Homo sapiens: one gene and its partners. The protein of the gene in region 2 purifies or fractionates together with the protein of the main gene of each other region. This does not show direct contact. Each region holds a gene or a part of one and is shown on either strand. Other genes may lie near its edges. The genes, in order: MCM8, GAGE1 and IREB2.

The links.
Region 1: the proteins of GAGE1 (region 2) and MCM8 purify together in Homo sapiens (affinity purification with mass spectrometry; one large-scale study listed by BioGRID and IntAct). This does not show direct contact.
Region 3: the proteins of GAGE1 (region 2) and IREB2 purify together in Homo sapiens (affinity purification with mass spectrometry; one large-scale study listed by BioGRID and IntAct). This does not show direct contact.

What each region holds. Positions count from the first base shown.
Region 1 is NC_000020.11:5,957,014-5,960,662, forward strand, and holds part of MCM8 (DNA helicase MCM8), read left to right. Parts: intron 1-112; coding exon 113-216; intron 217-1,514; coding exon 1,515-1,713; intron 1,714-3,649. UniProt on the Homo sapiens protein: Component of the MCM8-MCM9 complex, a complex involved in the repair of double-stranded DNA breaks (DBSs) and DNA interstrand cross-links (ICLs) by homologous recombination (HR).
Region 2 is NC_000023.11:49,597,491-49,601,889, forward strand, and holds the start of GAGE1 (G antigen 1), read left to right. Parts: upstream 1-1,529; 5' UTR 1,530-1,637; intron 1,638-2,676; 5' UTR 2,677-2,684; coding exon 2,685-2,768; intron 2,769-3,233; coding exon 3,234-3,354; intron 3,355-4,399. UniProt on the Homo sapiens protein: Antigen, recognized on melanoma by autologous cytolytic T-lymphocytes.
Region 3 is NC_000015.10:78,493,620-78,497,268, forward strand, and holds part of IREB2 (iron-responsive element-binding protein 2), read left to right. Parts: intron 1-289; coding exon 290-437; intron 438-522; coding exon 523-645; intron 646-3,506; coding exon 3,507-3,649. UniProt on the Homo sapiens protein: RNA-binding protein that binds to iron-responsive elements (IRES), which are stem-loop structures found in the 5'-UTR of ferritin, and delta aminolevulinic acid synthase mRNAs, and in the 3'-UTR of transferrin receptor mRNA.

The DNA of each region.
Region 1 (3,649 bases), on a different chromosome or scaffold from region 2:
CTGTTTTTATTCTGTTTCTGTCCATAAACTTTATATTCTCTATAAAAATAGAGTTCTGTATAAAGAGGATGTTTTGTTTTCCAACTTCAGAGTAAATGTCTGTCCTGTTTAGGTGTTAACTAAGGACCTTGAAAGGCATGCAGCTGAGTTACAAGCCCAGGAAGGATTGTCTAATGATGGAGAAACAATGGTAAATGTGCCACATATTCATGCAAGGTGAGGAATTTGATGTATTAAAGTATTACTTAGAATGGGACATTGAAGGCCATTTAAGAATGAAAACGCTCATTTTATAAAAATGAGGAAATCAGTAAAAAGGACATGAGTTCCTTGCCATCTCATTGATCATCACACTGAAATAAACTCATTGAAAATTATTCAAAGACATCATGACAGATACTTCCTAAATAAGGAAGAAAATGTTGATTTCCTAACCTGCAGATTTTTGTAAACATTGGTTTTGGATGTGAACTTATCAAGACCCTGCTGTGTAAGTTTAATAATCCATGTATGGGTTGAGTATCCCTAATCTGAAAATCTGAAATCTGAAATGCTCCAAAATTCAAAACTTTGAGCCCTGACACGACACTGAAAGGAAATGTTCATTGGAGCACTTCAGATTTTTGAATTAGAGATACTCAACTAGTAATATTGCAAATATTTGGAAGTCCAAAAATTCCAAAATACTTCTGGTCCCAGGCATTTTGGATAAGGGATATACTCAGTCTGTAATACACTAAGTGTTCTTTGTTAAATTATTAGGTTTTTGTTAGATACAAGGGAATAATGAAATTATTTTGTTTTTCTTGAATTCATCTTTAAGATTTTAAATTCATTAGAAGAATTCATTATAAGGTAATCATCAGCATTTTGTTTTTCTTTTCCAGAATTTATAGAAGAAAATTTCCTAGCAGTTCTTTAAAAAGAACTTAGAAACCCAAAGGTTTTTGAATCTGTAGATTTTCCTTTTGGCATTATTTTTTTCCTTAAATTTCTTTTTTCTTTTTTCCTTGAGAACAGCCTGTGAGACAAGAAGAAAAAGGAAGATTTAGTGTTGTTTCTTGTTAAGAATGGTTTGGCTGGGCACGGTGGCTCATGCCTGTAATCCCAGCACTGGGAGTCCGAGGCAGGCGGATCACGAGGTCAAGCGATCGAGACCATCCTGGCCAACATGGTGAAACCCTGTCTCTACTAAAAATACAAAAATTAGCTGGGTGTGGTGGCACACACCTGTAGTCCCAGCTACTCGGGAGACTGAGGCAGGAGAATCACTTGAACCCGGGAGGCAGTGGTTGCAGTGAGCCAAGATGGCACCCCTGCACTCCAGCCTGGCAACAGAGCGAGACTCCATCTCAAGAAAACAAAACACAACAAGAATGGTTTAATTCTTGTGATATTTCTGATATATCGAAGGGATGATTTGATTTGAGAATTCCATAGTTGCTCCTAAAAGGAACTTGTGAAAATATAAAAAACATCAATTTTCTGTTCATTACTTCCTGTTTTGTCTTTAGGGTGTACAACTATGAGCCTTTGACACAGCTCAAGAATGTCAGAGCAAATTACTATGGAAAATACATTGCTCTAAGAGGGACAGTGGTTCGTGTCAGTAATATAAAGCCTCTTTGCACCAAGATGGCTTTTCTTTGTGCTGCATGTGGAGAAATTCAGAGCTTTCCTCTTCCAGATGGAAAATACAGTCTTCCCACAAAGGTAATACGTTCTTTAACTGCTTCTTTATTTATCTTGGTAAAGAAGGCAAATCAGAATACAGAAAACATTTCCCAGTGTTTCTGAACACAGAGCTTATTTTTATTTTTTATTTTCAATTTTCTGCTTTTATATTATGAAATACTTCAGGGTAAGAAAAATACAGAAATAAATAAAACATTCCACTACTCATCACCCCGAATTTACATTTTTCAGCTCCGGACACATTTTTTAATGATATAAAGCATTACTGGCACAATTAGTGTCTGTTTTTTACCTATACCATTCCCAGGGATGATCATTATCCTGAAGTTATTATAATATGCATCCCTTCCATTCATATTTCTGTTGACTTCTAGGTATACACACCAAGTTTTTTTTCCCCTTTATTTCTTCTACTATTTAGAAGTGATGGGTTTTTTAAATCTTTATTAGCCTTTATTAAACTGGATTTTAAAACTATAGAAAAGTGCAGAGAATAATGTAATTAACATTTATCTACTCTATGATTTGGCAAATATTAATATTATTTTAGCTTAATTTGTAACAAAAATATGGTTATATAAAGTTGAAGTCTTTCTGTTCTCAGTTTTATTCCCTTTATTTGCTCCCTAGATGCAACCACTATGCTGAAATTGGCATGTATTCTTCAAGTTTACATTTTTATTCTTGACTACATGTGTAGAGTTAGTTTTTTGTATTGTGTTTACGTAAATGGTATCCTGAATGTAACACGCAGCTGTTTTTTTATTTGGTTATTTTGTAGTTCTACCTATTTTAATACATATCAAATTCTTTCATTTTTACTATTGTGGAGTGTTGCTTTAAATAAATAGCCACAATTTATCCATTTTCCTGGAGGTAGACAATTGTGCTCTTTCCAGTTTTTTATAAGAACAAATGATACTGCAGAGAACATTCTTGTACATGTCTCCTTAGCAGAGGAATACTAAGTTGTAGGCTGTACTTTTTTTTTTTTTTTTTTTTTTTTTTGAGACGGAGTCTCGCTCTGTTGCCCGGGCTGGAGTGCAGTGGCGCGATCTTGGCTCACCGCAACCTCCGCCTCCTGGGTTCAAGCAGTTCTCCTGCCTCAGCCTCTCGAGTAGCTGGGACTACAGGCACGCGCCACCATGCCTGGCTAATTTTTGTATTTTTGGTAGAGACAAGGTTTCACTATGTTGGCCAGGCTGTTCTCAAACTCCTGACCTGGTGATCCGCCTGCCTCAGCCTCCCAGAGTGCTGGGATTGGCCGGCTGTACTTATTTTTAACTGTATTAGATGTTACCAAATTACTTTCCAGAGTATTGTTCCCAACTTAAATCTTTGCTGGTAGTGTTAAGTAGTTACCATTTCTCTGTCTTTTCATTAACACTTGGTATTGTTAGACTTGTACATTTTTGACAGTTTGTTAGGTATAAATAATACTGCATTTATAATGTGAATTTTTCTGATTTCTGTTGTGGTTGAGCATCTTTTCATATCTTTACTGGCCATTCAGTTTCTTTATCGAATTTTCTATTTATATCTAATGTTCATTTTCCTGTTTATTGGTTTATTCTTTAATTTTGTTTTTTAGAGATGGGGTCTCATTCTGTTGCCCAGGCTGGAGTGTAGTGACATGATCATAGCTCATTACAACCTTGAACTCCTGGGCTCAGGTGATCTTCCCATCTCAGCTTCCCACGTAGTTGGGACTACAGGTGCCAGCCACTGTGCCTGGTTCTATTAGTTTATTGATAGGAGTTCTTTATACATTCTAGATACTAATTATTGTTGATTATATACATTAGATATTTTCTCCCAGTCTTTGGTTTGTCTTTTAACTTTGTGGGTTTTTTTGTTGTACAGTTTTACATTTTGACATGATCAAATTGTTGTCTTTTCCTCCCTAATTTGTATATTTTATGCCCTGCTTAAGAAGCCGTTCTTCGGCTGGGCT
Region 2 (4,399 bases):
CCCACCTCACCTCCCACAGTGCTGGGATTACTGGCGTGGGCCACCGTGGCGGGCCCGTCGTTGCCATTGTAAAGAGTTTTATTTCCTTTTCTGATTTTATGGCATTGCGCAGACCCACCCGTTACAATGGTGACAGTGGACATCCTTGTCTTATCCCTGATGAGAAACCGAAAAATTTCAACATTTCACCATCCTATTCACTCTCCTTTTTTTGTAGACGGACTTTATCAGAGTGAGTCATTGCATTCTGTTCCAAATTTGCTGAGAGTATTCATTTGAATATATGTTGATTTTCATCAAACAGTGCATCTATTTCGATTACCACAGCGTTTTTTCCCATTCATGTGTTAATATAGTGAATTCGATTGATAAATTTGTACGTTTTTAGGTTCGATTATTAAAACTTGAGACAGCGTCTCACTCTGTCACCGAGGCTGGAGTGCGGTGGTGTTATCAGAGCTCGCTGCAGCCTTGACCTCCTGGGCTCAAGCGCGCCTCCCACCTCAGCCTCCTGAGGAGCTGTGAGTATAGGTACATGCCACCATGCCCAGCTAATTTTTCGATGGTTTTTTGTTTGTTTTTTGTAGTGATGAGATTTTCTGATGTTGCTTAGGCTGGTCTCGAAGTCCTGAGCTCAGGTGATCTGGCCAGCTCAGCCTCCCAAAATACTAGGATTACAGGCGTGAGCCTTGGCCTGGTCTGGTTTTTCTTATATAGGGGTCTTATCTATATAAAGACTAAAGTTAATCTGTGCCTTTGTGCGGGTGGGCTAAGAGCATGATGACTTTTATCATTCTATTGATTTAAAGAAAACTGTCCTTGACTTACCAGTGTGTAAGTCCATGAAAGCATAATTCTGTTGAAAGCATATATTGTTAATGGGTGTTGGGAACCGTGCACTTTCCGCTGCTGTGGGAGCATGTCCTTGGAGGTACCTTTCATCTGTTTTCTCAACTCCAAACATCTTAGGACCATGGGTTGTGACTGGTAGGACTATGTATCTTGCTGCTTTCAAGACGGAGTATATTTTCACGTGGTGTCACTCTGGCTGTCCTGTTTCCCTAATACTGTCACTTCACCCTCTGCGATTCTGATGCTACAAATGATAGATATCGTTTTAGCATTTTCTTACGGGTCCTAGCGATTCTATTCATTTTTCTTTCAGTCTCTTTCTCTGACTTGTTCACATTGAACAATTTCCTTTTGGGATAGGTTGCTATTTCTGTTTTCGCAGGTGGTTTACCTGTCTTCCCAGCCAGTCACAGTGGTCCTTGTCCCCATGGTGGGTCCGGGGCAAGAGAGGGCCCTGGGTTGGGGGTGGGGTTCAGTTGAAGATGGGGTGAGTTTTGAGGGGAGCACTACTTGAGTCCCAGAGGCATAGGAAACAGCAGAGGGAGGTGGGATTCCCTTATCCTCAATGAGGATGGGCATGGAGGGTTTGGGGCGTGGCGCTGGGAACGGCAGCCCTCCCCAGCCCACAGCCGCGCATGCTCCCTGGGCTCCCGCCTCAGTGCGCATGTTCACTGGGCGTCTTCTGCCCGGCCCCTTCGCCCACGTGAAGAACGCCAGGGAGCTGTGAGGCAGTGCTGTGTGGTTCCTGCCGTCCGGACTCTTTTTCCTCTACTGAGATTCATCTGGTAGGTGTGCAGGCCAGTCATCCCGGGGGCTGAAGTGTGAGTGAGGGTGGAGAGGGCCTCGGGTGGGTCAGGCGGGTCCCGCTTCCTGGTCTGTGGCCTCCGAGGGAGAAGGGCCACGAGGTCGTCCTCCTTCCCTTCACAGGCTGCGAGGCCACCGGCGGCTTCGTGGTCGTGAAGGGGCCTGGACGGGGAGGAAGGTGGGCCGTGGAGGGGAGGCGGTCAGGGGCTCAGGTGAAGACGGGGTGAGTGCTGTTGGGGGGATGGAAGTCCCGAGGTGCCGGGATCCCCGACGACACAGGGCAGATTCCCTGAATGGGGCCCCCGGCGGGGGCGAGGCGGGCGGTGAAGAAGGGGCCTGGCACCTGGGAAGGCTGCGGCCTGGCGAGCGCCCCCTCAGCGGTGTGGAGTGCGGAGCGCCCGAGTGAGAAGCACTGCAAGGTCTCACCTCCGCCATGGAAGGTCCGAAAACAGTGGGAAGGAGTGGGCGAGGCAGTGCGGTCCAACCAAACTTGTTGTGAGGGGGGGTGAATGGCTCTAGGAAGTGGGAGTGTGCCCAAAGCAGCAATCACGAGAATTGTGATTCACTAGGGTTTTCGTGGGGAGTGCACTTGTGAAACTAAACCTCATCAGAAATGACCTCTGTCTGCGGGGCGCAGTGGCGCTCGCCTACGTATTCCCAGTTACTGGGGACACTGAGGTGGGAGGATCCCTTGAGCGGGAGGTCGAGGCTGCAGTGAGCTGTGATCACGCCGCTGCACTCCAGCCTGAGCAACACAGCGAGACCGCGTGTCCAAAAGAAATTTAGAAAAAAATGTCCTCTGCCTTTTGCCACACGCCTTAAGATGATTGCTCTGCCAGCCTGGCCAGCAGAAGTGGCTTTGTAGGCACTCAGACAGCGTACACACGTATGCTTAACTCTGGGACTTATTTTGAGAGTATTTTCAAAAGTAAAACGGCAAGTTAACATTTATCCATGGAAGTGATCGAATATAGCAGCCCTCTGGAGCGCACGTTCCCAATCACGGTTGTCTGTTTTCAGTGTGAAATATGAGTTGGCGAGGAAGATCGACCTATTATTGGCCTAGACCAAGGCGCTATGTACAGCCTCCTGAAATGATTGGGCCTATGCGGGTGAGTGCTTAAACGTTAATTCGATGTTTTCTATTAGTAGAAATTAATTTTTGTGATAGCGTCGTTGCATTAGTGTGGAAATGCTGATAAAGGTCTTTCCTGCTCATAAAAAATGAGGATGGCATCTCATGAAGGAAACATTGATTCTGGAGGATTTTTTTTTTCCTCTCGTGTTCTTCAGCTTTTGCCCATGACTTCTTTCTCCGGCTTTGTTTGTTAATGACAGATTGTACACATGTATTCCAACACAGAGTATAATAGCCCCCAAAGTCCTCGTGCGTCACTTTTCTCACAGTAACCTCCCTGTGGGTGGAGTAACCTTATTGGGCATAGAGCATAGAGTTGGAGAAATGTCTTTAGGCTTAGTTAGGACCAGAAATAGCTATGTATTCTGTGTATATATGTAAAATTTTGTATCAATAACGAAACTTATTTTTTATTTGCACACCCACACGTATTCCCCAGCCCGAGCAGTTCAGTGATGAAGTGGAACCAGCAACACCTGAAGAAGGGGAACCAGCAACTCAACGTCAGGATCCTGCAGCTGCTCAGGAGGGAGAGGATGAGGGAGCATCTGCAGGTCAAGGTGAGGGAAAGGGAAGAAGAACGTCTGCTGGTGTGTGCGTGTGTGTGTGTTCGTGTGTGTGTGTGTGCACGTGTGTGTGTGTGTGTTAGGCATTGTCACATAGGAGGAAGAGGAGGAAAGAAAACAATGGAAAGAATGCCTGAAATTGACTGGAAAAGCGAGGAGGCTATGTAGTTCGCAGCTTAGCTTAGGCAAATCCCTCACTATGGTAAAAGATCTCGACTTTATGAATGAGAGAATGGAGGTGCCAGGATTGTGTGTTATCCAAGAACCCTTGACTGGTGAATACAACATTTGTACTGTGTTCCAAGGTTTGTGTCTTCCTATCATGTATGTTGCTGTAAAGAAGGAAGTGATTTTGCTGAAAATGCTTAAAACTCAAAAGGCTTTACTGTAAGGTAGCTTAGTACTGACCCAAGAATAGACCCAGTTCAGAGGAGCAGGAGCAGCTCCAAAAACCGAGTCGCTGAATGTTGGCCCCCGTTTCCTTTGATTGATATTTTTATATGGTACGTTTGATAAAAGCTGGATAAATGAGGATACTGCCATACAGGTAGCTGGTTTAGTGATTTTTCTCAGCGGCCTTTAGGAGGTGATTAAATCCTTTTATGGTTAGAAAAGCAAAAACGGAATTATCCTGAGATTAACGTGAGATGGAAATAATTTCTCCGAGATAAAATGTTTTGAAAGGAAGCATTTATGTAACGGAGGTCATGGATTATTCCAGGGATGCACTGTTAAAAGTTCCTAGAATCTGACTGACAACAATGCCCATTAATTGCTGTCCGCCCACTCCCTTATTCTCAGTGCGGGGGACAGTATATTTTCTGTGATTCACAAACAATGTTATATTTGGTGCTTTGTTCTTCACGGGGTTCATTTATGGAATATTACCTTTAGGACCTTCGGACCTAAATATAACTTTATTTGAACAAAGTGAAGTTTCTCTTTACCCCAATAGGTAATGGGTGTCGTGACTGTAAGATTTTCCATAGTCCTCAAATCCATCCAGCTAATCAATCCTTCAGAAACTGACATTGTAATT
Region 3 (3,649 bases), on a different chromosome or scaffold from region 2:
AAAGATTTTTTTTTAAGAGTCTACATCTTTTAGTGAAATGTACTGAAAAGTATGCTGTTAAAATTATCTCAGTTTTGCTTCAAAATAATCTAATGGGGTTGACTGTAGAAGAAACGGAGCATCTGTTAAGTTATAGCTTGGTGATAGGCGCATGGACATTCATGGTTTTGTTTTCTTTTGTGTTTGAAATTTTCTGTGATAAAAAAATTTTTCAATAGGTCTTACAGCTCAATAGTATGTGATTATTTTCCACATGTAATGAAAACTGACTTTCATTACTTTCTTGTAGCCTTACCCCTCGTGAATTCAACTCTTACGGAGCTCGAAGAGGTAATGATGCTGTAATGACAAGAGGCACTTTTGCAAATATCAAGCTTTTTAATAAGTTTATTGGAAAACCAGCTCCTAAAACAATTCATTTTCCATCAGGACAGACGGTGAGAATGCAAACAAAGTATTTAGACAATTTATAACTGGATCAAAATTTGTATTAAAAAATTTTGTGTTTGTTTTAATCTACAGCTAGATGTATTTGAGGCTGCAGAGCTGTACCAGAAAGAAGGTATCCCACTGATTATTTTAGCAGGAAAGAAATATGGTTCAGGAAACTCCAGAGACTGGGCTGCCAAAGGACCGTATTTACTGGTATTGAATCTTAAAATTTATCATCTTAAGCTTCAAAGAGTTTTAACTGTTCCCTTTTGTCAGTAACATCCTGTCAAAGTTTATCTGGATTTTTTATAGTTATTTGAACCTTATAGGTATAGAGGGTTTTGTTTGTTTGTTTATTTCAGTGATCTTTGGTAATATTTTGTACTCATCTAGTTAGTATCATTTTAATACTCTGAGTTTGGTAAAACCTACATCAGTCTTATGTGAAGAAGTCAGTATAATAGAGGGAAAGGAAATTCTGTTTTAAACTATTGTTTTATAATTATTTATACCTATTGATCATTTTTTTTGGTTTTTTAGTTTTGAGACCATGTCCTTGTCACCCAGACTGGAGTGCAGTGGCGCAATCACTGCTTGCTGCAGCCATGACCTCCCAGGTGCAATCAGTTCTCCTGCCTCAGCCTCCCAAGTAGCTGGGACTACGCCATGAGTTACCACACCTGGCCAATTTTTGTATTGTTTGTAGAGATCGGATCTCTCTATTTTGCTCAGGCTGATCTTGAACTCCTGGGCTCAAGTGATCCTCCCGCTGTGGCCTCCCAGGGTGCTGGGATTACAGGCTTGAGCCATGTGCCCGGCCCCCACTGTTAATTTTACTTGCCTCCTTTTGATTTAATTTTCTCCGATTTGCCCCATCAGTGGGTAAAAGACTCAGAAGTAGTAGGCCAAGTTGCACCTTTTTTCCCCCTAAATAGGAGATTGTGGTGCCTGGCTGTCTGCCAGGAGGACATTTCTCCTGAGACTGTTTCCTTGTTGCAGAGCAAATAGGCCATCTGCTGGGGGGGAATAGTCATGTGACATGTGCTTTTTGCCATTTCATACTCACAGATGCTTCTCTTTACAATTGTAGCTGTAAAAAGGCTGGCTGAAACACAGATACCATGCAGGCCTCATTCTTATTTTAATCTTTAATATCTCCTTTAAAATGTAAATACTCTGAGGGGCTGTGGGAATAAAACAAAATCTCATCCTTCTAAGATACTAATTATAAGTATTATTATGAGTATTAATGATAGGTATAGGTTATTTTTATCCTGGAAATTGTTTTAGTGTTTGTTTTTGATGTTGGAAGCTTTCCTTATATGGCAGGTGATGCTTGGCCCTCCATTTGTTAGACATTAAAAAACTGATTACAAGCCATGGATGGGGGCTGGGTTGTGTCAGTTACTGGGCCTTACTATAGGTGACTGGGTGATAAGCTACCTTTTTCATTAAGCGATTCTATATGTCATTATCTGTATTTTCTCTGAGGCCATTCAGTTTCTTGAAGGAAAGAGACTCGTTCAGTATGTAGACATCTACTTAGTCCCCTGTTTTCAATCTGGTATTCTCAAGCCCCTGTGCCCAGTGTTTGTCAGTTTAGAGAATGTATTCTCTTCCTTATTTCTGCTATAACAAAAAATGAGTAAAAATTTGTAAAAAATGAGTAAAAAAGAACAAAAATTGGTCCTCAGGTGGTAAAAAAAATTCTACTTTTTGCACATAAAGTACAGATAAGAGTACATTAAAAGATACACAGCATCTTTGTGGTACTAAAATTTTGGAGAGAAGGGAGGTGAACAGGAAGACACAATTTGGGGGAAAAAAGTCTTAAAAGACTCCTTAGGTAGACAGTGGAGAAAAAAGTTGAAAAACACAAGTCTAGAGCCTTTGGCTCATTTTTTCCAGAGAATAAACCTCTACTCTTGTGGAGTGGGGATTGAGCTGGATCTTACTGCTTTGTATGGCCTTGTAACCTGTGTCCACGAGTATTCTGAGAACCTCATGCCTCTGAATCTCAATCCTTTTCCTGGGTCTTGTGTTGCACATTAACTCAGACCTTACTGGTATCACTCTCTAATTTCATTTTATCATTCTGCGGTTTCAGCATTGTCTTCTAAATCACTTACCTATCTCTGTTTTCTAAATATTCATAGAATTCTCTCATCCTATTCCCTTTGTTGCTGTGGGCTTATACCCTCTTCATTATTGTTGTTACTTATTTGTATTTTTTGGAGACAGGGTCTCACTCTGTCGTCCAGGCTGGAATGCAGTGGCATGATCTCAGCTCCCTGCAACCTCCACTTACAACCTCAAGTGACTCTCCTGCCTCAGCCTCCATAGTAGCTGAGATTACAGGTGTGCACCACCATGTCCAGCTAATTTTTCTGTTTTTAGATAGAGATGGAGTTTCACCATGTTGGCCAGGCTGGTCTCAAACTCCTGGCTTCAAGTGATCTGCCCACCTCGGCCTCCCATAGTGCTGGCATTACAGGTGTGAGCCACTGCATCCAGCCTATTCTTGTTACTTTTTATTGTATTTTTTATTTTTATGTTTTGTAGAGACAGGGTCTCACTATATTGCCCAGGCTGGTCTCAAACTCCCGGCCTCAAATAATCCTTCTGCCTCAGCCTCCAAAGTACTGGGATTATAAGCATATAAGCCACTGCGCCTGGCCCTATATACCTTCTTTATTCCTTTATTTTAGTGGCATTTCAAGAGTGTTGAAAACATATGTTAGATCTGGCATGTTTAAATAGAAATCCTTCTGAGCCCTACTTTGGGGTCAAGGGAGCCGGCCCATTTATAGAGCTCTTATGATGTGGTAGGCAGCGGCAGTACTTAACCCTAGAGCAGCAGAAAGGGATCCGAATAATTTAGAGAGCTCCATAAAAATTCAGAAAAATAATCTGTAAGAAGGTTCTGTAAATACTTTGATAAAATATTGATTCAGTATGAGATATTAGACTAAAAGTATTTAGAGAAAGGCCAAAGTAGATTTTTGCCCCCTTTAAATGCTCAATAAATAACTTTCAGAAGTGATTAGAGGGAATAAAATGCACATTTATTACAGGGTGTGAAAGCTGTTTTGGCCGAAAGTTATGAAAAAATACACAAAGATCATTTGATTGGAATTGGCATAGCTCCACTTCAGTTCCTTCCAGGAGAAAATGCAGATTCCTTGGGCCTCTCCGGTAGAGAAACATTTTCTTTAAC